3 separate regions of the Homo sapiens genome follow, and all the other regions are linked to region 1. The links come from fine-mapping of genetic effects on gene expression. A gene starts in region 1. Each other region holds a variant in brackets. All regions are shown on one strand. Distances are between the middles of the regions.

Region 1 (7,694 bases):
CGACACAACCAGAGGGCAGGTGAGGGAGGCCCCTGGGGTCGGCCACTCAGGCGCACTGGCCCCAGCTGCCTCCAGGGCTCCAATGCACCCTACCTCTCTTCTGCCTGTGGCCAGCTCTTTGGCTGCTTGTCTCAGGCCCTGTTGCTCCCTAAGCCCCACAGTCCCCACAGCACTGGCACACAGGGCAACCGGGAGAACACCTGTCAGATTAAACATGTCAGGACTACTAAACTTAAGGAAAAAATATGCTTCTGCCATATTGCCAACTCTCCATTTATAAACTGGTACTAGTACTTTCTAAGGGTAGACTGACCTTAACCTCTCCCAACACCCTTCACTCAGTAAAACAGGGATAATGGCCAGGCTTACATGTAATGTTCCTTCTGGGCGTGAAATGAGACTGCATGTAAAATGACATTCTTTTTTTTGAGACGGAGTCTCACTCTGTCGCCCCAGCTGGAGTGCAGTGGCGTGATCTCGGCTCACCTCAACCTCCGCCTCCCGGGTTCAAGCAATTCTCCTGCCTCAGGCTCCTGAGTAGCTGGGATTACAGGCATGCACCACCACGCCCAGCTAATTTTGTATTTTTAGTAGAGATGGGGTTTATCTATGTTGGTCAGGCTGATCTTGAACTCCTGACCTCAGGTAATCCACCCACCTCGGCCTCCCAAAGTGTTGGGATTACAGGTGTGAGCCACCATGCCTGGCTGTAAAATCACATTCTTGAGAGCCAGGCTCAGGTTATGTATCCAATAAACAGAGACCATAGCTACTAGCTAAGGAGAATTTAAAAACAAGAACTGAATTAGAAGAGAGGCCAGGTGCAGTGGCTCACGCCTGTAATCCCAGCACTTTGGGAGGCTGAGGCAGGAGGATCACTTGAGCCCAGGAGGTCAAGACCAATCTGGGCAACATAGTGGAACTCCATTTCTACCAAAAAATAAAAATAAAAATAAATTAGCTGAGCATGGTGGTGCATACCTGTAGTCCCAGCTACTAGGGAGGCTGAGGCAGGAGAATCACTTGAGCCTCAGAGGTCAAGGCTGCGGTGAGCCATACAGTGAGCCACTGCACTCCAGCCTGGGTGACAGTGAGACCCTGTCTCAAAAGGGGAAAAAAAAAATTAAAAGAAGAAATCCAGTATTACACCACGTTTTCTTTGTTCCCAATGCAGTGTGTTTTGGTGTAGTGTGTTCTGAGAAGACAGGCCTTGTGCCACTGATGGACTGTCTCACACATGTCTTTATTAGCCCCTTCAAGTTTATTTCAGTCTCGGAGACGGAGTCTTACTCTGTTGCCCAGGCTGGAGTGCAGTGGCGCGATCTTGCCTCACTGCAAGTTCCGCCTCCCAGGTTCACGCCTTTCTCCTGGCTCAGCCTCCCGAGTAGCTGGGACTACAGGCGCCCCCCACCACGCCCGGCTAATTTTTTGCATTTTTAGTAGAGATGAGGTTTCACTGTGTTAGCCAGGATAGTCTCAATCTCCTGATCTCATGATCCGCCTGCCTCGGCCTCCCAAAGTTCTGGGATTACAGGCATGAGCCACCACGCCTGGCCTATTTCAGTCTTTTTTTTGGGACAGAGTCTCACTCTGTTGCCCAGGCTGAAGTACAGTGGTACAATCTCAGCTCACTGCAACCTCTGTCTTCCAGGGTCAAGCAATTCTCCTGCCTCAGCCTCCTGAGTAGCTGGGATTACAGGCGTACACCACCATACCTGGATAATTTTTGTATTTTTAGCAGAGATAAGGTTTCACCATGTTGGCCAGGCTGGTCTCAAACTCCTGACCTCAAGTGATCCGTCCACCTCGGCCTCCCAAAGTGCTGGGATTCCAGGCGTGAGCCACCATGCCCGCGTACTTCAGTCTTCTTTAAAGCAGTGATGTGCACGGTGCTGTGAGCCCCCAAAGAGAAAAACAGCAGCAGTAGTTTACTCTGGGCTGATACAAAACTGAAAAATCTACTTGCCTCTCCATTTTCCTGGGCTGGACTCGGTGCATCGGCTGACACATTCTCTTGGTCATCAGTTTTTGTTTTCTTACTACATTCCTTAAAAAAGCAAAGGAACATTATCAATGAACTTTTACTTCGTCTCCCTTAAGAAAATGTGCACATTCTGACCAATGAAGCTCATGTATTTCTATCCTTTCTTTTAGTTTATTTATTTATTTTTTTAGACGGAGTCTCGCTCTCACCCAGGCTGGAGTGCAGGGGCGCAATCTCGGCTCACTGCAGCCTCCACCTCCCGGGTTCAAGCGATTCTCCTGCCTCGGCCTTCTGAGTAGCTGGGATTACAGGTGTGCGCCACCACACCCAGCTAATTTTATATTTTTAGTAGAGACTGGGTTTCGCCATGTTGGCCACGATGGTCTTGAACTGCTGACCTCAGGTGATCCACCCGCCTCGGCCTCCCCTCCCAAGGTGCTGGGATAACAGGCTTGAGCCACCGTGCCTGGCCTTCTATCCTTCTAACCCTTCTAGTGAAACAGGTACTGAAGGACACACACACATCTCTATTGTTTACAATAATAAAAAAGCAGAAGCAACTGTAGCCTTCACCCCACAGGCGAATTCCCCTGGACACAGGTGTACTTAGAATAGGACGCAGCCACCACCGGGGATGAACGACCCATGGAATGTTAGGAAGCCTCCTGCCACGGCGTCACGCGCAGAAGTGCCAGCCACAGAGCAGCATCCACAGGAGCCCATTCCGGCAATAACAGCTACAAAACCCCCCTGCGTGCGCTGCGCGGTTGTTGCCATGGCCTGGAGACAACCGCGGAAGGCGCCGGTCAGCAGCCGTCACCCGCTTCCGCCCCTGCACCGGCTGCTCGGTGACCCTCAGAGGGGCAGGTTCGAAAACGCCTAAAACCCTCTCGAAACGCTTCTGATCATTCCCGCCACGACCGCTGTTTACTCGGACTGTGGTGCGCGGCACGAGAGGCTCGGTCTCCGTGCGTTTCCGCGCTTCGCGGGCGTGGGAAAGATGGACAAGTTCAGGGAGAACCGCGAAGACCGAACCCGCCCTGCAGAGCGCAGCGGACCCCGCGCCGGCCGCCTCCACGCCGAGCGGGCCCAGGGTGCCGAGGCCGGGGGCGCCTTGAAGAGCCCTGAAGCGAGCGAGCGGCGGGCCCGGACCGCCAACCTCGGCCGCCCAGAGCCCCACAGGACAAGCACCAGGCGCGCGCCTCCCCGGCCCGCGGCGCTCACCTTGCGCGTGCAGTGCTCACACTTCATCTGGAGCGCGGCGGGCGGGAGGCCGGGCGCCTCAGCCTCAGGGAAGCACCGGGAGACTGGGACACCACTGCCCGCCGCCCGCGGCCCTTTGTTGTCCTCCCCCGACGCGGCCTCACCCCCAACGGCCGCGCTCGGCCAATGAGAGCACCGGGAGAGGACAAGCCGCACCCCTGGGCCAATAGGATTCCCCACCCTTACGGCTTTGCCTAGGCCAATGACAGTGTCGGGAAGGGGCGGGCCAGGCCCCAGAGCCAATCGGAGCGCGCGGGGCGGACCGCAGGCTCACTCCACGTACGGCGCCGGGGGGACCGGGTCCTTGCGCCGGTTTCCGCTTCTCGTGGGTCCTGCGGCGGCGGCGGCGGCCAAGCGGCGTTCACCAGGGAGTCGGTGAGCGCGCGGACTGTCCCGAGGCCAAGCTGGGGCCGTTCCAGGGTGCTCGGTCCGGTGGTCACGGGGCCTGGAGGCCCCTGGGCCCGCGGAGGCCGCGGCCGGGCTCTGTCAGCCAGCTCGGCGTTGGACACTCGCCTTACTCGCGGCTCCTAACGGGGCGGGCCGGGGGCACAGCCCTCGTCCGCCGCCATTGCCACTTGACGTCGTGTCACGTAGGCTCGGCGGAGTAGCAGCGCGCATGCGCGGCCTGCCTGTCAGTAACCACGTGATGGACCCGGAAGCCCGAGGGCAGATGCTAAATGATGGCCATTTGACATTTGCGTGTGTTCACTATGGATAGTTTTACCAAGTACATTGATTTGGGCCCTTACAGCTTACAAAGTAAAGATAACACTTACTCCTCCAAGAAATTGATTTCAGCTAAGCAAAACATTGATACAGGGCTATAATGGAAGTGTTGGACTCATAAACGTTTTATGAAATCAGTGTGTGTGTATTACAGAAATCAGAAATGAGAAGTAAGAACATGTCTGGGAGAGTGTGACATAAGAAAAATAACTTGTAGGCGTATTTAACAGACAGCAGCAGTTCTCAGGATTCCCCATGTTAGAGCCTTCCTTCCTGTCCTCTGAGAAATGAAAATGAAATCCAAAGACCCCCAACTGACTACACGAACCCCCTACTGGCTAAGGAGATCCCAGGGTTGCCTTGAAGGCAGTTCTCAGCCATGACAGATGGGAGGTGAGACACCTGTTATTAAGGCCAACCCTTGGCTAACTACCATTAGGTTTTCTTGGCTAAGAGCTTAACGGAAACCAGCGCTTTCGAAAGACTCCACCGCTGATAACAACTCTCTCATTTGCAGTTTCGGCCCAATTGACCAGTATTCCTTACTGATAAGAGACACTGACCATGGAGTGGTTCTGGTGAGATGACATGACCCTCGTGAAGGGGCCTGAAGCTTCATTGTGTTTGTGTATGTTTCTCTCTTCAAAAATATTCATGACTTCTCCTGTAGCTTGATAAATATGTATATTTACACACTGCACCTCATAGATTCCTGTTCCCTTTGCCCCTCCCTGGAAGTGTCTGTTTCTGGCTTCTGGCCAGAGGCAGTGCTTCCCTGTCTGTCAGAATGGCCACCCTGCAGGCTGAAACCCTTTATGAGAAGTAAAGCTCTCCTTTCCAGATTTATGAATCTCATCATTCTTCAGCTTGCCATTGCCCATCGGGTTCTTCCTGCCCACTGCACAGACAAAAAGTCAATTCATCAAGATTGCAGCAGGCCGGGAAAAGAGTTTAATTGACACCTGGCAGGCCACACAGGAGACAGTTACTACTCAAATCAGTCTCTCCAAAGGCTCAGCAGTTAGGAGTTTGTTTTTTGTTTTTTTGTTTTTGTTTTTGAGACGGAGTCTCACTCTGTCACCCAGGTTGGAGTGCAGTGGCACAATCTCGGCTCACTACAACCTCCACCTCCCAGGTTCAAGCGATTCTCCTACCTCAGCCTCCTAAGTAGCTGGGACGACAGGCACACGCCACCACGCCTGGCTAATTTTTGTATTTTTTAGTAGAGATGGGGTTTCACCATAATGGCCAGGCTGGTCTTGAACTCCTGACCTTGTGATCCGCCTGCCTCGGCCTCCCAAAGTGCTGGGATTACAGGCATGAGCCACCACGCCTGGCCGCAGTTAGGGTTTTTATGGACAATTTGGTGGGCAGGGGGCTAGGGAATGGATGCTGCTGATTGACTGGGAATGAAATCAAAAGGGTGTGTGGAAAACGGTCCTCAAGCACTGAGTCTGCCTCTGGGTGGGGCCACAGAAACCAATTGAGTCCTGAGTAGCAGGTTGGGGTGGGTTCACTCTGAAAAACATCTCAAAAAGCCATTCTTAGGTCCTGCAATACTGATATTATCTATAGGTGCAATTCGGGAAGTTGCAAATTTTGTGACCTCTGGCCACATGAGTCCTGAGCAGTGAGGGACTGTAGAAACTAGGCCTGCATTTTAGCAGAGTTCAGGCCACTCCCACAATCCTAACCTTGTGGCCTTTCATTAGCTTTACAAAGGCAATTTCAGCCCCAGAAGTGGGAGGTGATAGTTTTAGGAAGGGACTATTATCATCCTTGTTTCAAGGTTAAACTGTAAATTCCTCCCAAAGCTCCTAAAATTAGCTTGGCTTATGCCCAGGAACAACTGGACAGCTTGGATGTCCAAAGGAAGACGGAATTAACTGTGTGAAATTTCTCTGTCTTTTTTTTTTGAGACAGGGTCTCACTCTGTCACCCAGGCTGGAGTGCAGTGGCGTGATCACAGCTCACTGCAGCCTCAACCTCCTTGGATCAAGTAATCCTTCCACCTCAGCCCCGCGGGGTAGCTGGGACTACAGGCTCACACCACTGTGCATGGCTAAGTTTTAAATTTTTTGTAGATACAGGGTCTCCCCATGTTGCCCAGGCTGTTCTTGAATTCCTGGGCCCAAGTGATCCATCTCAGCCTCCCAAAGTGCTGGGATTACAGGTGTGAGCCACTGCACCCAGCCTCTATCACTGCCTTAATCTTTGCAAAGGCAGTTTCAAGTTGACACTTCAAAGTTGAGCTCAGGCATGGTGGCTCATGCCTGTAATCCCAGCACTTTGGGAGGCCGAGGCAGGCGGATCACTTGAGGTCAGGAGTTTGACACCAGCCTGGCCAACATGCTGAAACCCCATCTCTACTAAGAATACAAAAATTAGCCAGGCATGGTGGTGTGTGCCTGTAATCACAGCTACTTGGGAGGCTGAGGTAGGAGAATCGCTTGAACCTAGGAGGTGGAGGTTGCAGTGAGCCGAGATCGCACCACTGGACTCCAGCCTGGGCGACAGAGTGAGACTTCATCTCAAAAAAAAAAAAATTATTATTTATAGTTTTCATTTTGTATAGCTTTTTACAAATGCAACAATGAAATTCTGGAAGTCTTAACCCTCTAGATTACTCAAATTCAAGTCAGCATCTCTCAGAAAATATCTCCCCTCAACTTCAGTTTAAATAAAAGGATAATTTTAGGTTGTCATTTGTATAGCTTTTTTGTTAATGTTTTACAAACATAACTGGCCAGGTGTGGTGGCTCACGCCTGTAATCCCAGCACTTTGGGAGGCTGAGGTGGGTGGATCACCTGAGGTCAGGTGTTTGAGACCAGCCTGGTCAACATGGTGAAACCCCATCTCTACTAATAATAGAAAAATTTGCTGTGTGTGATAGTGGGTGCCTGTAATCACAGCTACTCAGGAGGCTGAGGCAGGAGAATCACTTGAACCTGGGAGGCAGAGGTTGCAGTGAGCCAGCACCATGCCATTGCACTCCAGCCTGGGCAACAAGAGCAAAACTCCATCTCTAAAATACAAAAAAAAAAAAATGAAATAAAAACATAAGTGTAATATGTTTGAAAGAACAAATTACGGCCGGGTGTATTGGCTCATGCGTGTAATCCCAGAACTTTGGGAGGCCAAGGTGGGAGGATTGCCTGAGCTCAGGAGTTCGCAACCGGCCTGGACAACATGGTGAAACCCCATCTCTAATAAAATACAAAAAATTAGCTGGGCATGGTGGCACGCACCTGTAGTCCCAGCTACTCAGGAGACTGAGGCAGGAGAATTGCTTGAACCTGGGAGGCAGAGGCTGCAGTGAGCCGAGATTGCATGACTGTAGCCTGGGCAACAGGGCGAGACTCCGTCTCAAAAAAAAAAAAAAAAAAGAACAAATTATAATCACTTAATTTTTTTTTTATCAAATAGCCAATGTCCAGTTTTCCCCATTGTCTCATATTTTTTTACAGTTTGTTTAAATCAGGATCTAAATAAGGTCTAGTATGTTTTAATAGTCTATATTACAATTGGTTCATATGTTTCTTAAGTCTCTTTTTCTATGAACTTACGGAAGACATTGAAAAGTCTCTCTTTAAAAATAAAAACTTGTTCTCCCTCTCCCTCTCCTCTCTTCTCTCTTCTCTCTTCCCACAGTCTCCCTCTGTTGCCGAGGCTGGACTGTACTGCCGTGATCTCGGCTTGCTGCAACCTCCCTGCCTCGGG
Region 2 (7,694 bases), 49 kb after region 1:
CAAATTCTCATCACCAGTTTCTGTCTCCTTCACCCACCGGCTATGGAAAGGGGCGTCAGAACCTCCACTGAGCATGGACCCAGCAGCGTCTGTGCTTTGGTTGCCACGTGTGTCATGGGGCGATGCTGTCTGCTGTCTGCTGCCCCTTCCCCTTCCTGCCGAGTCGCTCCTGTGCCGCGGGGGACCCTCTCTTCCCTCTAGTGATTCTCTTTGCTAGTACAGAGGCTGCGCCACGGGCCTGTGTGGCTCTCATTGCATTTGCTGTTTGCTTTCCGCTTTCCTGTGTCCTCGCGTTTTGTGGGGTAAACCTTATAAAAAAGCATAAAATGACTTTTTGTTTTTGAAATACAACACCTATGTCCATTAGATCATTTAACCACAGTAACTACAGCCCCCCTTCCCTGATATTCAGCCAAGTGGAGCTCTGTTTATCTCCTGGCACAAGGCCCAGAGAAAGGAACCAAGGTCATCTCGGTGCCTTGTGATCCCTGGGTCCAAGCCCCTGATGCTGGCACTCAGCACTGAGTGCGAGGCTTTTATTCCCATGGTCCCGGGAGGGATGCTCCACGTCCAGGCTCAGGGCTGGCTTTTTAGGCAGGATGTAGGGAGAGGGAGGAAAAGCATATTGTGGAGTCCCGGTTTGCCCCATGTCCTGGTGCTTGTGGGCTGCTGTCTGATCGATCAGGCATGGCCTGACGCCTTTCCAGCGCATGAAGCCAGCTGCACTTGGTACCAAACCACAGGGGCGGGTCCCTGGGCCCCTCTCCGACACTCTGCTGTACCTTGTGCATCTGTGCGATGCTGCCTCGACCACCCTGCCCCTGCCCTGACCACCCTGCCCCAAACACCCTAACCCTGTCTGACCACCCTGCCCCTGCCCCAAACACCCTGCCCCTGCCCTGTCCACCTTTCCTCTGCCCAATGACCCTGACTCCTGTCCACTCTGATCCTGTCCCAACGACACTGCCGCTGCCCCAAACGACCTTGCCCCTGCCCCGATAACCATGCCCCTGCCCCGATAACCATGCCCCTGCCCCGATAACCATGCCCCTGCCCCGATAACCATGCCCCTGCCCCGATAACCATGCCCCTGCCCCGATAACCATGCCCCTGCCCCGATAACCATGCCCCTGCCCCGACCGTGTTGCTCCTGTCCCAACGACCCTGCCCCTGCCCCGACCACCCTGACCCCCATTTGAGCTGCTGCTTCCTCTTCCCTCTCAGCCTCCGCAGGTCACCAAGGTACGGGGAGAGACAGGGGCATGTGCGGAGCAGTTCGCTGTGCCCTGGGGAAGGACTGGGACTAGACCCACAAGCTCCACTCTGGTGGTCTCAGGAGGGTTTTCTGCTCCAGTGGTCTCAGGAGGGTTTTCCTCTCTGGCGGTCTCAGGAGGGTTTTCTGCGCCAGTGGTCCCAGGAGGGTCTTCCTCTCTGGTGGTCTCAGGAGGGTTTTCTGCTCTGGTGGTCTCAGGAGGGTTCCCCCCTCTGGTGGCCTCAGGAGGGTTTTCCTCCCTGGTGGTCTCAGGAGGGTTTTCCTCTCTGGCGGTCTCAGGAGGGTTTTCTGCTCTGGTGGTCTCAGAAGGGTTTTCTGACGGTGCCTGTGGGTGTCTGGACCTGCAGTCAGTGATGGTTCAGGAATGCTGTTGACGCCGTGTCTGGGGTTTCTGTGACTTTCCCAGGGTTTGGGGCAGCAACAGGTGCCTCTGGATTAAATTTCCAGTTGGAGCCACTGGAAGCCAAGGTGGCCCAGTGAGACGTGAACTCCAGATGCACCGCACAAAGCGCATGCACGCTGGAGAGCTGTGGTTGTGTGTGTCTGAAATTCACATTTGACCGGGCGTATTAGCCAGTTCTGGCCCTGATTCCCTGGAAGGGCATGCGCCGGTGGCCTTGGAAACTGCGTCTCACCCTGGCTGTCCCTTCACAGGCTGCACTCCCCGAAAGTGCGGCAGAGGTGTCACCGATGTCGTCATCACCAGGGAGGAAGCGGAGCGGATTCGCAGGTAACCGCCTGTCCCTGAGCACGGTGGGATTCAAACAAACACACGCGGAGTGGGGCTAGGGCGGGAAGCAGAGCATTGTTAGTAATAAAGTGGTTTTAAGGATTTTATTGCCAGGCGTGGTGGCTCACGCCTGTAATCCCAGCACTTGGGGAGGCTGAGGCGGGCAGATTGCCTGAGTTCAGGAGTTCGAGACCAGCCTGGGCAACATGGTGAAACCCTGTCTCTACTAAAATACAATAAATTAGCTGGGTGTGGTGGCATGTGCCTGTAGTCCCAGCTACTCAGGAGGCTGAGGCAGGAGAATCGCTGGAACCCGGGAGGCAGAGGTTGCAGTGAGCCAAGACTGCACCACTGCACTCCATCCTGGGCGACAGAGCGAGATTCTATCTCCAAAAAAAAAAAAAAGATTTTATTATAATTTTATAAGAATTTCCAGGCTGGGTGCGGTGGCTCATGCCTGTAATCCTAGCACTTGGGGAGGCCAAGGCGGGTGGATTGCCTGAGCTCAGGAGATCGACACCAGCCTGGGCAACATGGTGAAACCCCTGTCTCTACTAAAATATGAAAAATTAGCCGAGTGTGATGGCACACTCCTGTAATCCCAGCTACTCAGGAGGCTGAGACAGGAGAATTGCTTGAACCTGGGAGGCAGGGATTGCAGTGAGCCGAGATTGAGCCATTGCATTCCAGCCTGGGTGACAGAGTGAGACTCCATCTCAAAAAAAAAAAAAAAAAAAAAAAAAAGAATTATGTGCTTTCAAGGGCCAAGCTCAGATTTTCCGATTTCAGGAGAGGAGACCATGGCCCTCAGCGAAGCAGTAGCTGGGAGAGTACCCAGAGGCCCAGGTTCCTCTGCAGGGGTTGTGGCCGCCTCTGGGGGCTGCTGCTGAGTGCCCCATGCTCCCCACGGAGCCTCCGGGACACTGCTCAATGACCGCTCAGTGTCTGCTCTGAAACTGCCTCCAGGGAGCCCGTCAGCCCACCTGGCTATGACTTGTGGCAGCACAGGATGCCACTCAGAGGCTACTGGTGCTGGACTTTTCTTACTGAGATCTTAAAAGAAAGTTTTGATTTTCCAACCACTTGTTGAGACGATAAGCATGTGGAATGGTGTGCAGCCCTGGGCCACGTGCCCTGCCCTGAGATTCTCCCCAGGGAGCCTGCCCCCGAGGATGCTGCCTAGCTCCACGCAGGGTTACTGCTGCCTAGCTCCAGTGGGGTTACTGCTGTCTGACTGAGGCACCGGCGTGTCCCCACTTGGTGTCCACAGGCAGCTCCCAGCACCTGTGGCAGCTCAGGGTGGTCCTCTGTGGTCCAGCACAGCTGGCGTGTGGGTGTCTTTCTCCCACCATGGTCAGGGCCCCTATCTCCTGAGCTGGTGAATCTCAAAGCTTCCCCCACCTGCCTGGGGTTCCAGGAGAGATGGGGAGCAGTGGGCCCTCCCCTAGATGCTCCCCAGGCTCCTGAGCTTGGCCCAGGTGGCTTTCGATATTGAAGATGAGAGATTAAGCCCAGCCCTCCCTTTCTCTCTCTCTCTCTCTCTCTCTTTTTCTTTCTTTCTTGACAGAGTCTTGCTTTGTTGTCCAGGCTGGAGTGCAGTGGCGCGATCTCGGCTCACTGCAACCTCTGCCTTCTGGGTTCAAGCGATTCTCCTGGCTCAGCCTCCAGAGTAGCTGGGATTACAGGCACCTGCCATCACAGCTGGCTAATTTTTGTATTTTTAGTTGAGACGAGGTTTCACCATGTTGGCCAGGCTGGTCTGGAACTCCTGACCTCGTGATCCACCCGCCTTGGCCTCCCAAGGTGCTGAAGCCCAGTCGTTTCTAAGCTGAGTCAAATATTGACAAGACAACGATGGCAGTATTGTCGCTTACGCACTGAACTTTGAAAGTTGAGTCCTTTGGTCTAAACATTTGTTTACATCATAAACATTAAACACGCAGGACCCACTAATGTTGCATTAATTTTGCTGATTGACGTTTGCCTAGATTATACATTATAGACAATTCTAGCAACGAAATTCTGAATTATTTTCTCCCTGCAGCGTAGCTGAAAAGGGGCTCTCCCTGGGAGGATCTGACGGAGGGGTGAGTTGAATGTAGTCCCTGCCCCCCTTTTTTTACCCGTTAACTTTGCTCTCACTTGGATGGGAAGGGGAAGGCACAGACATGCAGGGTTCCCTGCGTGCCCCCAAATGTGGGTGGGGCCTGCCGTGGTGTTTCTCAGCACCAGCCGCAGCAGCTGCGCCTGACTGAAACCCGTGCGGCGTCCCCTCGTTGGGAAGAGTGTGTCCTTAGATGTGCGTGGCCATCTATTCATGGCATGTCACGGCCTGCCTGGCTCCAGTTCACACTGGGGGATAGAGGGGGTCGGAAGCAGGGAGCCGGCAAGGGAGCGGGGTGGGAGCCCAGCGAGGAGACGGCTGCGCATGCTGGACACAGGAGAGCCCGTGGAGCTGCCGGGAAACAGCAGGGCCTCCGTGGGACAGACACGCTGCAACGCATCCTGCAACTTCCTAGCTGGACGCCTCCATGGACGCCCTGTGGGGCTGTCGTCCCATGTGAGGCTGCAGGGGGTCAGCTAGTGGCCTCGGATAATGTGTTCACCTGGAGCCCGTGGACATGATCTGATTTGGAAAAGGGACCTTTGCAGATGTAATTAACTTAAGGATCTCAAGATGACATCATCCCAGATTTAGGGTCCTAAATCCAATGGCAAGTGCCTATAGGAGACAGAGGCAGGGGGAGATTTGAGAGGGAGGAGGAAAAGGTCCTGTGATGATGGAGGCAGAGATGGGAGCAGTGCGGCCATGGAAGAGGCGGGCAGGACCTCCCCTGGAGCCCTGGGAGGGAGCAGGGCCCCTCCCACACCTCGATTTTAGACTCCTGGGCTCTAGAACTGTGAGAGAATAAACTTGTGTTGTTTTAAAGCCCCAGTTTGTGTTACCACAGCCGCAGGGATCATGGAGCCACC[G/A]CCGGCTGTGGCCTCGCCCTCCTGTTGGGCAGTGGCTGGGAGTCAGTCTGGTGCAGCTGGTGTTAGCTCCAATTCCCATGCGGTTTCCTCAGGGTTGTTTTCTTGCTCGGTGTGTGGAATTGTCTGAAGATCTGTTTCTCTCTGTTTATTTGGTGATCGCTTTGAATTATAATCACTGAATAGACTTGAGTCTTTCTGCATATTTGAAACTTCTAGAAAATTAATTTATAGACTCTTTGAGAATTTCAAAGTATTTCTGTGATGGTCTGTGTGACTTTTTTCTGCAAACTCTTTTCTCTTGAGTTCTGAAAATTAAGTTCCTTTTTTTCTTCTTTTTTTGAGACAGAGTCTCGCTCTGTTGCCCAGGCTGGAGTGCAATGGGGCGATCTCCACTCACTGCAACCTCCAACTCCTGGGTTCAAGCCATTCTTCTGCCTTAGCCTCCTGAGTAGCTGGGACTACAGGCATGTGCCATGATGCCCGGCTAATTTTTGCATTTTAAATAGAGATGAGGTTTCACCATGTTGGCCAGGCTGGTCTTGAACTCCAGAGCTCAGGTGACCCACCTGCCTTGACCCCCCAAAGTGCTGGGATTACAGGTGTGAACCACCGTGCCCGGCCTAAGTTCCTCCCTTTATTTCAGTTTGGTTTGGTTCAGTTCGGGGGCTATTTGTTAAAGATCTGTGAGTGAGTAGGTTTCTGTTTCACAGCTCCTCCACGTTCACATGGGAAGTTGTCCTGCATGGAGCTGGCTGGGCCGCTGCTTTGGGTTCAGTTACTGTTCAGCGGGCCCAAGCTAGGTTAGTGCCGCAGGGCCAGTGGCTGTGGCGATGAGGAAGGGGCAGCAGTGGGGCTCCTCTGGGGTCACAGGTGGGATGACTAACGTGGGCTGGAAGCCTCTTCCTCTGAGGACGTAGGGAAGGACTGAGAGGTGGGTGGTCGGGCAGGAAACACTTCAGCAGTGGCTTACAAAGTGATGACTCAGGCTTGGCGTGGCGCGCACTGTGGTGCCAGCCGCCCAGGAGGCCAAGGTGGGAGCACCGCTGTGAGGCATTTACTCGAGAGAAGTCAACACTTGCCCACAGGGACACATGACTGTGACTGGCACGGAGCTGCACGGAGATGGCTCCAGACTAAAAATAGCCCACACGTGCCACCATTCTTTAGGTCACAGGGAACAAAAGTGTTTGGTCCAGGAAGATTTTTTTTTTTTTTTGAGATGGAGTTTCGCTCTTGTAGCCCAGGCTGGAGTGCAATGGCACGATCTCGGCTCGCTGCAACCTCCGCCTCCCTGATTCAAGTGATTCTCCTGCCTCAGCCTCCCAAGTAGCTGGGATTACAGCTCCTTGGGAGGCTATCTCTGTAGGTGTCCCAGCTACAGCTGGGATTACAGCTCGCCACCATGCCCAGCTAATTTTGTATTTTTAGTAGACATGGGGTTTCACCATGTTAGCCAGGCTGGTTTTGAACTCCTGGCCTCAAGCAATCCACCTGTCTCAGCCTCCCAAAGTGCTGGGATTGCAGGTGTGAGCCACCACGTCTGGCCGGTCTGGGAGGATTTTAAGAAAGTCCTGGGTTGAGGCTGGGTGCAGTGGCTAATGCCTGTAATCCCAGTACTTTGGGAGGCTGAGGTGGGAGGATCACTTGAGCCCCGGAGTTCGAGACCAGCCTAGGTAATATAGTGAGACCACATCTCTACAAAAAATAGAAAAATTAGCCAGGTGTGGTGGCGAGCGCCTTTACTTGGGAGGCAGAGGGTGGGAGGATTGTTTGGCCTGGAGCCTGGAATATTGAGGCTGCAATGAGCTGAGATTGTGCCACTGCGCCCTAGCCTGGGCAACAGAATAAGATCCTTTTTACAAAAAACAAAAACAAAAACAAAAAAACACCTGAGGTGTGTGCTGGCCAGACCTTGGAAACTCGCATTTACCATCCATGACTTTTAACAGCCATTGCCATTGCTGCGGCTGCACGCTTTACTCCACAACGTCTTTTCCAGGCATCCATTCTGGACTTGCACTCAGGGGCCCTGTCTGTCGGGAAGCACTTTGTGAACCTGTACAGGTGAGTGCTGCAGCATGACCTCAGTGCTGGCTCTGAAAGCCGAGTGAGCGGCTCCGTGCCTCTTAGCCATGGACATGTGGACACGTGGACATGTGAGGGAGGATCCGGCTCGGTGCAGCCTCAGGGCCTCAGTGGCTGTGATGTTGGCCGGGTCCTTCCTGGTTCTTTGGGACGCAAGAGCTGGGAGGTGTGGACTCTCCACAGCCTGTGGGCAGGGGGCTTGTTCATGAAGCTTTAGGGGAATCTGGTGTTTTTGTGGGCCCAGGGACAGAAGGGATGGGAGCAAGAGGCAGCAGAGATGGGAGGCTCCCAGGAGCAGCTTCCAAGAATCCAACGGGGCCTTTGACGCTCCATGAGGGGCCGGGAGAGCAAAGAGACCCTCCCTGCGTGGATCCGTGTCAGCCTCATGCATTAGCCCTGGGTCTTGCTCCCGGCTGGCTCCTTGTTTTTATTATTATTATTATTATTTTGAGATGGAATCTTGCTCTGTCGCCTAGGCTGGAGTGCAGTGGCGCAATTTCGACTCATTTGACTCTGCCTCCTGGGTTCAAGCAATTTTCCCATCTCAGCCTCCTGAGTAGCTGGGATTACAGGCACGCACCACCACGCCCAGCTAATTTTTGTATTTTTAGTAGAGATGGGGTTGTGCCATGT
Region 3 (7,694 bases), 23 kb before region 1:
TGAGACGGAGTCTTGCTCTGTTGCCCAGGCTGGAGTGCAGTGGCACCATCTTGGCTCACTGCAACCTCTGCCTCCCGGGTTCACGCCATTCTCCTGCCTCAGCTTCCCGAGTAGCTGGGACTATAGGCGCTCACCACCACACTCGGCAAATTTTTTGTATTTTTAGTAGAGATAGGGTTTCACTGTGTTAGCCAGGATGGTCTCGATCTCCTGACCTCATGATCCGCCCGCCTCGGCCTCCCAGAGTGCTGGGATTACAGGCACGAGCCACCGCACCCGGCCAAGAACACTTTCTAATGTAAGTTTGGAATGTCAGCAAAATAAAAGGTCTGAATAAACACAAAAAAGTCCTTTTGATTTTGACTAGTGTAAACTCCATCCATAGAACCGCCACATGCACAGATCCATACAGGCACACCATGCACACGTGCTAACCACAGGCACAGACAGGCTGTGGATACTGCCCCACACCTCAGGGCTCGGTAAGTGACCTCCTCCACATCCTCGTTGAACAGCTCCTTGGCCGCATGTCTGAAGATGTGTGCCAGGTGCCCGTCTGAGCTGGCTCCATCATGACGCGTCACTTTGTCCTCCTTCAAGTCTCCAAACCTCACAAGGCAGAGAAAATACAAGTCCTTCATGAATGCTGACGTACAGTGACAGAAAGAGTGAAACCAGACTTCCTGAGGGCATCACAATCCAAGTTCGCCACCAAAGAAGCTAAATCCTGTACAGATGTTTAAACTTTGCAGAAAGTCCCATTCTAGCATCTTGAGGGGTCTTGGGAGGGCCTGCCTGATGCTCGGGCAAGGCGGAGGACTCTCAGTCACGCCGAGCCCATGCACAGGCTCTTGCAGGTGCTCCAGATGCTTATGGTCTTTTTCTTTTGGAGACAGGGTCTTGTTCTGTCTCTCAGGCTGGAGTGCAGTGGCACAATCATAGCTCACTACAGCCCCAGCCTCCTGGACTCAAGTGATCCTCCTACCTCAGCCTCCCAAAGTACTGTGATTATAGGTGTGAGCCACCACGCCTGGCCCCACAGATGCTTAAATTCTGTAAACTTCTATCTTACCTTCCCCCAAAAGGGCACGAATGCAGCACCTGGGATGCGGACTGTTGGCGAGGACACACGCTGCTGCCTTTGTGGTGCTCTCTGCCCAGTGCCTGGGGTGCAGCAGGAGCCCTGGGCCTTGCTGGGTATCGAGGTCACCGCCCCCAGCAGAACCCAGACTGCCACTCTTGGTGCAAAGGGGCCTGAGGGAGCTGCCCCACTGCCCCATAGACCACACGGAATGTGAGGCACAGACGGCACTCAGGAAGAAGGGGGCTGGTGCACACATGAACAGCCCTGCGCCAGCGAGGACAAAGCTGTTTGTGCATTTTGTCCTTCCTCAAGGGTTTAGGGTGGCAATCACACCATGGAAGCCCGCCAAACCTTCAACTCCCTGGCAGCCCTGGTGAATGGTATCCCATTCAACAGCTATAGGGTGGCTGAGGGTTGTGGCAGGGGCCTGGGGGACTGCATCGCAGTGCTTCACATGGCCTCGTCATAAAGCAGGGCAGCCCTGGGCCTGGCAGGTGGCTGGCAGGGCTGACGAGAGGTCCTGCCCCCCAGAGGACTCTCCCCAGAGAAGCCACTTACAGAGTGTCGACGGCAGCATCTCTCACTGAGAGGTCACCTTGCTCCATTATTTGAGCAATTTCACCTGCAGACAAACGAAGTAAGACACTGAAAAGACACAGGTGGCCACAGGAACTTTTCTTCCCCTGCAGGAGATTTGACATTAGTGACCCTGGGTGACCTCCCTCTTATGAAATCTCCATCACACACAGCAGGAGTCCATCTAAAGGGCAAAGTGAGGCCAATAAAATGAAACACTAATAAAACGTAAGCAGAATTCAATTCTAACTCCTCTTTCCATTCCTCTTTCTGCCCTTGAACTGTGGGATTTATGTAAACAATCTCTCCATGATTTTCCCATGTGGAAAATCTGTAAACTTTTTTGGCCTACTTTGCATGAAACAAACAGAAAACTTTTGTGTATAACAAGCTCACAGAGATAGGATGATGAAATATACACTGGTTGCATTTTTTTTTTTTTGAGATGGAGTCTCACCTCCGCCGCCCAGGCTGGAGTCCAGTGGTGCAATCTTGTCTCGCTGTAACCTCTGCCTCCCGGGTTCAAGTGATTCTCTTGCCGCAGCCTCCTGAGTAGCTGTGATTACAGGTGTGCACTACCACGCCTGGCTAATTTTTGTATTTTTAGTAGAGACGGGGGTTTCACCATGTTGGCCAGACTGGTCTCGAACTCCTGACCTCAGGTGACCAGCCTGCCTCAGCCTCCTGAAGTGCTGGGATTACACGTGTCAGCCACTGCACCCAGCCCTTTTTTTTTTAAGAAACAAGGTCGCCAGTCTAGCCAACATGGCGAAACCCCCTCTCTACTAAAAACACAAAAATTAGCCTGGTGTGGTGGGGCGCACCTGTAATCCCAGCTACTCGGGAGGCTGAGGGAGGAGAATCGCTTGATCCTAGGAGGCGCGGAGGTTGTAGTGAGCCAAGATGGAGCCACTGCAGAGCCTGGGTGACAGAGTGAGACTCCGTCTCAAAAAATAAAAAAAAAGAGACGAGGTCTCACTGTGTTGCCCAGCAAGGTCTCAAACTCCTGGGCTCAAGTGATCCTCCAGCCATAGCCTCCTGAGTGGCTGGAATTAGAGGTCTGAGCCATTGTACCCAGCTACATTTATATGACAATTGTTTATTCTGCAATGAGATCAACTGAAAGTGAGAACCACTTTCTGTATTTCCTTTTACATGAGGATGCCTGAAAAAACCCTTAATAGAAAAACTGAGCCTCTAAAACTATGGCTGTGGCATCACATTAGATGCTGTGAGATGGCTGGAAACACAGGTAAGAAAATAGCGTAATTTCCTATAAATCTGCACTCAGAAAAAAGATGGCTGGACATGGTTCTTCTGACAGCCCACCGCGCATGTTTTATTTTGTCAACGTAAGCAGATGGCCCCTGGGCCCTTCCTCTGAGAGTGAAGGATGGCCGTGCTGAGGACCCTTCTATCCCTCATCCTTCAACACCCCTGCCACATCACCCCACAGGGAGCCTGTGCCTATGGGGTGGGGACCTTTCCAGAGGCGTCTGCGTGCTAGAATTTCAAGTCAGGGGCCTGTGAGGGACAT[T/C]GGCGCCCTTAAAGATTGTCCCTGAGAGCTGACCTCTCTGCCTCATCTACCACTGATCTAAATACCTGCAGGGACCTGTTTTCAGAGACCAATTAAAACAGTTCCGCCAGAATTTTAACAAAGTCTTAAGCTTCCCCCACCAACTGATGTCAACATTCTTCTGAATGGGTTCTACATAATTCCAGGGAATCACTTCCATCCACAACACACACAGAACTCACTGTAGGCTCTTAACATCTGAAAGGAGTGGCCAATACCGTGGTAAAGGCAATATCACTGGAGCAAACGTGCCTTTTTCATTTTATTCTGAATGAAAAAAACTTCACTTGTGTTTTAAGTGCAGACTTGGTTTGTGATTAGGAGACCCGCTATGGCTATAGACAACTTTCCCACCAAGAGATAAGTACCTTACATGGACTGTAATGTAAAGTTAGGGCCACCACACTGCCCAAGTGGTTCTCCCAGGACCTGATTTATCTTTTTTTTTTTTTTTTGAGACAAAGTTTTACTCTTGTTGCCCAGGCTGGAGGGTAATGGCGCGATCTCGGCTTACTGCAACCTCTGCCTCCCGGGTTCAAGCGATTCTCCTGCCTCAGCCTCCCGAGCAGCTGGGATTACAGGCATGTGCCACCATGCCCGGCTAGTTTTTTGTAGTTTTAGTAGAGACGGGGTTTCTCCATGTTGGTCAGGCTGGTCTCGAACTCCTGACCTCAGGTGATCCACCTGCCTTGGCCTCCCAGTGCTTAGATTACAGGCGTGAGCCACTGTGCCCAGCTGAGACCTGATTTATCTTGAGGAAGATGCACAGAGGAGACAGGAGGCTAGATCGAACATGACCCTTCTCTTCACCTGCAGTTAAGCCCCTAGGACCCTCAGCTGTCAGTAACTTCAGACAAGCGACCACATTGGCAGGCACTGAGATGGCTCTGGGACACAGATCTGCCTGGCTCTGGTGTGTACTGGCCAGTAGGAGATTACCCCAGCGCCCAGGTGCACCCCCGCCCACCTCTCACCTGATGTTAACACGCAGTCAGCGCCCCGGGAGCCATGCAAAGCAGGGGGAAGGCTTTCCTGAAGAGCCTCCAGCTTCTTGTCATAACAAGGGGCCACAATGACGTGGAAAATCTTCTCTGGAGACAGGTTCTGTGGGAGAGGGGCACCCATATTTAGGGCTGGTGAAGAGGTGACGGCAGCTTACGCTTGGTGCCCAGAACAAGAGGGATGGGAGACCGAATGCCCCCTGCTGCTGCCCTCCAGACACTGCATGCTGCACTCTTTTTTTTTTTTTTTTTTTGAAATGGAGTCTTGCTCTGTCACCAGGTTGGAGTGCAGTGGCGTGATCTCAGCTCACTGCAAACTCTGCCTCCCGGGTTCAAGCGATTCTCCTGCCTCAGCCTCCCGAGTAGCTGGGACTACAGGCGCATGCCGCCACGCCTGGCTAATTTTTTGTACTTTAGTAGAGATGGGGTTTCACCGTGTTGCCCAGGCTGGTCTCAAACTCCTGAGCTCAGGCAATCTGCCCGCCTCGGCCTCCAAAGTACTAGAATTACAGGCGTGAGCCATCGAGCCTGGCTGCATGCAGCACTTTCTTGGGGCTGGGACTGTTGTGGGTCTGAGGCCGGGCCCCACAGATGAAAGTGCTGTAGCCACATCTGGCTCCCATCCCCTCTTCAACTCTACCGAGCACCAGCACTCCATCCATGTCTGTCTGCTGCCTCCCTCAGGACTGGGTGTGGTCCTCCCAAACATCTGCAAAGCCCCCCAGCCAGTGGAGCCTCCTGGAAGAACCGGGAAGGCTGAGCCCATTTCCTCCTGAACCTGTGCACATGGGGACAAAACAAGTAAGAGGAAGTCCAGCCGGCGTGGAGCTGTTGCTGGTCCAGCATGGAGCCATTGCAGGAGGCCTGAGTGAGTGTGTGTGTGTGTGTGTGTGTGCGCGCGCTGGCTACTTCACCCACAGACTTTCCTGAATCTTCCCAAGCGATGCCCACCCAAGCTACCCCTCTCCTGGGTCCACACAGAGCAGGTGCCTGTGGCTGGGCCTGAACTGGTGGCAAAGCCAGGAGCCAGCAGTTGCCAAGTGACCCTGTGGTGAGGTCTGGGTGGAAAGGACCCACTCAGGGCAGGGGCGGAGCAAAAGAGGAAACCCGCCCCTGGTTGCAGCTGTGCCAGGTGGTCAGGTGAGAGGCTGCTGGAGGCCGGGTCTCTGCGGCTGCCCCTCATGGCACCTACAGGAGGACACATAGCTCTGGGCTCCATCCAGGGGAGAGGGCAGCACGTGGAAGACCTAGAAACACATGGCTCTCTTCAGGTGGGGGCAGGGCAAGGGACAGAAAGTCCCATAGCTCATTTTTCGGTCCTGCCTAAACTGAACGTGTATACTCTGACATCATGTTTATAATTTGCCAAATTATGACTTTATGGGTAGAAAGAAACTAGATAGAAGGAAAACACTGCCTATTGCTAAAATAACAAGGCTGCCAAATGTGCGTGCCTTTTTAGGCTGACTTCAAATGTCTGAAAGATCCTGATGTTACCCTCTACTCCAGTTACCACAGTGCCTGGACATGGCTGCTTCCCCGGAGGGAGGTGTAAAGTCTGATTGAGAAGAGCAGTGTGGGGCATGCCAGCGGCTGGAGAATAAACCATGGGATTAGGGTCCCTTTGAGGGTGGCCTTGGAGACATCAGGGAGTTCTGGGAGGACCTGGGGGCCGCAGAGGGTTGTGGGAAGGGAGAACACGACGGGCCGAGGCAGGGGGCACGCAGGAGCCTCAGGCCGGGACTCACTCCATCAAGAGGAGGACAGCATCATGGCCACTGTGGAATCTCACAGAAGTGGCTAAGGAAGTCATGTGATGCCCGTGGTCTGAGGGAAAGGCCAGGGCAGAGGCCAGGTTTGGCTCCCTAAATGACAGCTGCCCTCAGCCTCCAGGCACAGGCCACTTTAGGCCTCCTTGGGTGAGGCATCCCAACAGCAGGCAGGCAGCATCTCTGGGCAAGGTCCGGGGCCTCATTCTCAGCAGGGTGGGCAGCATTTCTACTCTACCCCGAATGGGCCCAGGAAAACCACCAGATGCCACAGAAAAGGTTAAGAAGAAAGAAAAAGGTTGTAAGAGGAAGGGAGGAATAGAGACGGGCGTTGGTGAGAAACAGCACTGCTGATGTTTCCTGAAGCCACAGCTTCCTTTTTGCTCACCTGGGGGGCCGTGACCACGCTGGACAGATGGGGAACCTCCCCTTCCTGGGCCCCTGTGCCATGGTCCTCCCTCACCTGCCCTTCCTGCCCTCCAGAGAGGTCAGCTTACCTGCTGTCTGGCGAAATAATCCTTCACCAAAGAGCCCATGACCTGCTGGGGGGACTTGGCGGTGCAGAGGTGGGCAGTGATGGGGCGACCCAGCACCCGCTCGGCGTATCGGACCCAGCCTGGGGAGAGAAGGGATCCACGGTCAGCTCCTTACTGCTTCCTCTGGTCTTCCTGTAACGCACCAGGGAATGCTGAGCTCGAGTCCCTGCCGCCCCAGGGTGAAGCCAGAACACCTTTTCCCCAGGCCTTACCAGGAGCTCGTGCTGGACCCAAAACCCGTCCTCGGTGGCCCGGCTGTGGGTCATGGGAACCTGCAGGCCTGGAGGCTACTGGGAAATGGGAGCATCCCTGCAAGGCCGACAGACAAGTAAGAGTCGGAGTAACAGGTCCCCCAAAAAGGTGAAGGGGAACAAGCACTGAAAGGCAGCAGGAGCAGCGGCCCAGGCTGCACCGTGCAAAATCGCCTGGCCAGCTACAGCGTCCTTACAGCCAGGACACGCAGCTACCGCTCAGGGGAGAGCAGCCACATGCTTGCCCAACTTCTCTCACCGGCGAGAAACTAACAGCCCAACAACTGCACGCTTTTTAAAATATAAGAAATCTATACTCCTCAAGTCGTAATAAATAGCAACATCTGTAGTGTCACTACATGCCCGCACAATCTGAGCACTTTCCTGAGGTTGAGTGCTGCTGTGGTTTCCAGGGTGAACACAAGTCACCACTGCAGCTGACCACACAACAGCAATTCCACCGCAGGAGCCCTGCCTACTCCTTTCCCGCAGGCGTACAGCCCAGTCAGAGTGCATAAGAACATCACAGAACTTGCTGACCTGGCAACTGATTTTAGGACCTGACCCCACAGACACTTGCACACCTGTGTACATGAGAGCCACGCAACCTGCCCTCAAACAGGGGCTGGGTAGATACCTTGGGAGACTCTACTCCTGGCGGGGAAGGTCGCCCAGAGGGTGAGAGGCAGCTCATGTCCCACAGTCAGACATGATAATCCCATTTAACAATCAAAGTTTCACCTATAAAGACGCCCGTGTGTGCTCAGGAAACACCCACAGAGACACAGAAGCAGCCACAGAGAGAAATGCCCCAGGGCCGGGCGCAGTAGCTCACGCCTGTAATCCCAACACTTTGGGACTGTGAGGCAGGCGGATCACTTGAGGGCAGGATTTCAAGACC

What was found. PIP is the estimated chance that this variant, and not a neighbour inherited with it, causes the effect.
Region 2: its variant is fine-mapped to the expression of NARF in whole blood (INTERVAL, PIP above 0.99).
Region 3: its variant is fine-mapped to the expression of NARF in whole blood (TOPMed, PIP 0.98).

What each region holds. Positions count from the first base shown.
Region 1 is chr17:82,454,345-82,462,038 of GRCh38, reverse strand. NARF (nuclear prelamin A recognition factor) reads right to left here and starts at 3,298. Exons shown (of 11, transcript NM_012336.4): 1 at 3,209-3,298; 2 at 1,967-2,047. The coding sequence starts at 3,235. It overlaps NARF-AS2 (NARF antisense RNA 2), which reads left to right and starts at 3,520. Exons shown (of 3, transcript NR_184099.1): 1 at 3,520-4,366; 2 at 4,491-4,601; 3 at 7,626-7,694. RefSeq lists enhancers at 2,544-3,376, 3,810-3,959 and a silencer at 2,960-3,779.
Region 2 is chr17:82,405,764-82,413,457 of GRCh38, reverse strand. OGFOD3 (2-oxoglutarate and iron dependent oxygenase domain containing 3) reads left to right here. Exons shown (of 9, transcript NM_024648.3): 3 at 1,928-2,003; 4 at 4,048-4,090; 5 at 6,976-7,040. Among named protein-coding and RNA genes, the nearest start is that of HEXD, 8.7 kb to the left of the region's middle. The variant G/A (reference allele first, on the strand shown) is at 4,977.
Region 3 is chr17:82,477,728-82,485,421 of GRCh38, reverse strand. NARF (nuclear prelamin A recognition factor) reads right to left here. Exons shown (of 11, transcript NM_012336.4): 6 at 6,504-6,622; 7 at 4,211-4,340; 8 at 1,643-1,706; 9 at 472-609. Among named protein-coding and RNA genes, the nearest start is that of TRX-CAT1-8, 13 kb to the left of the region's middle. The variant T/C (reference allele first, on the strand shown) is at 3,198.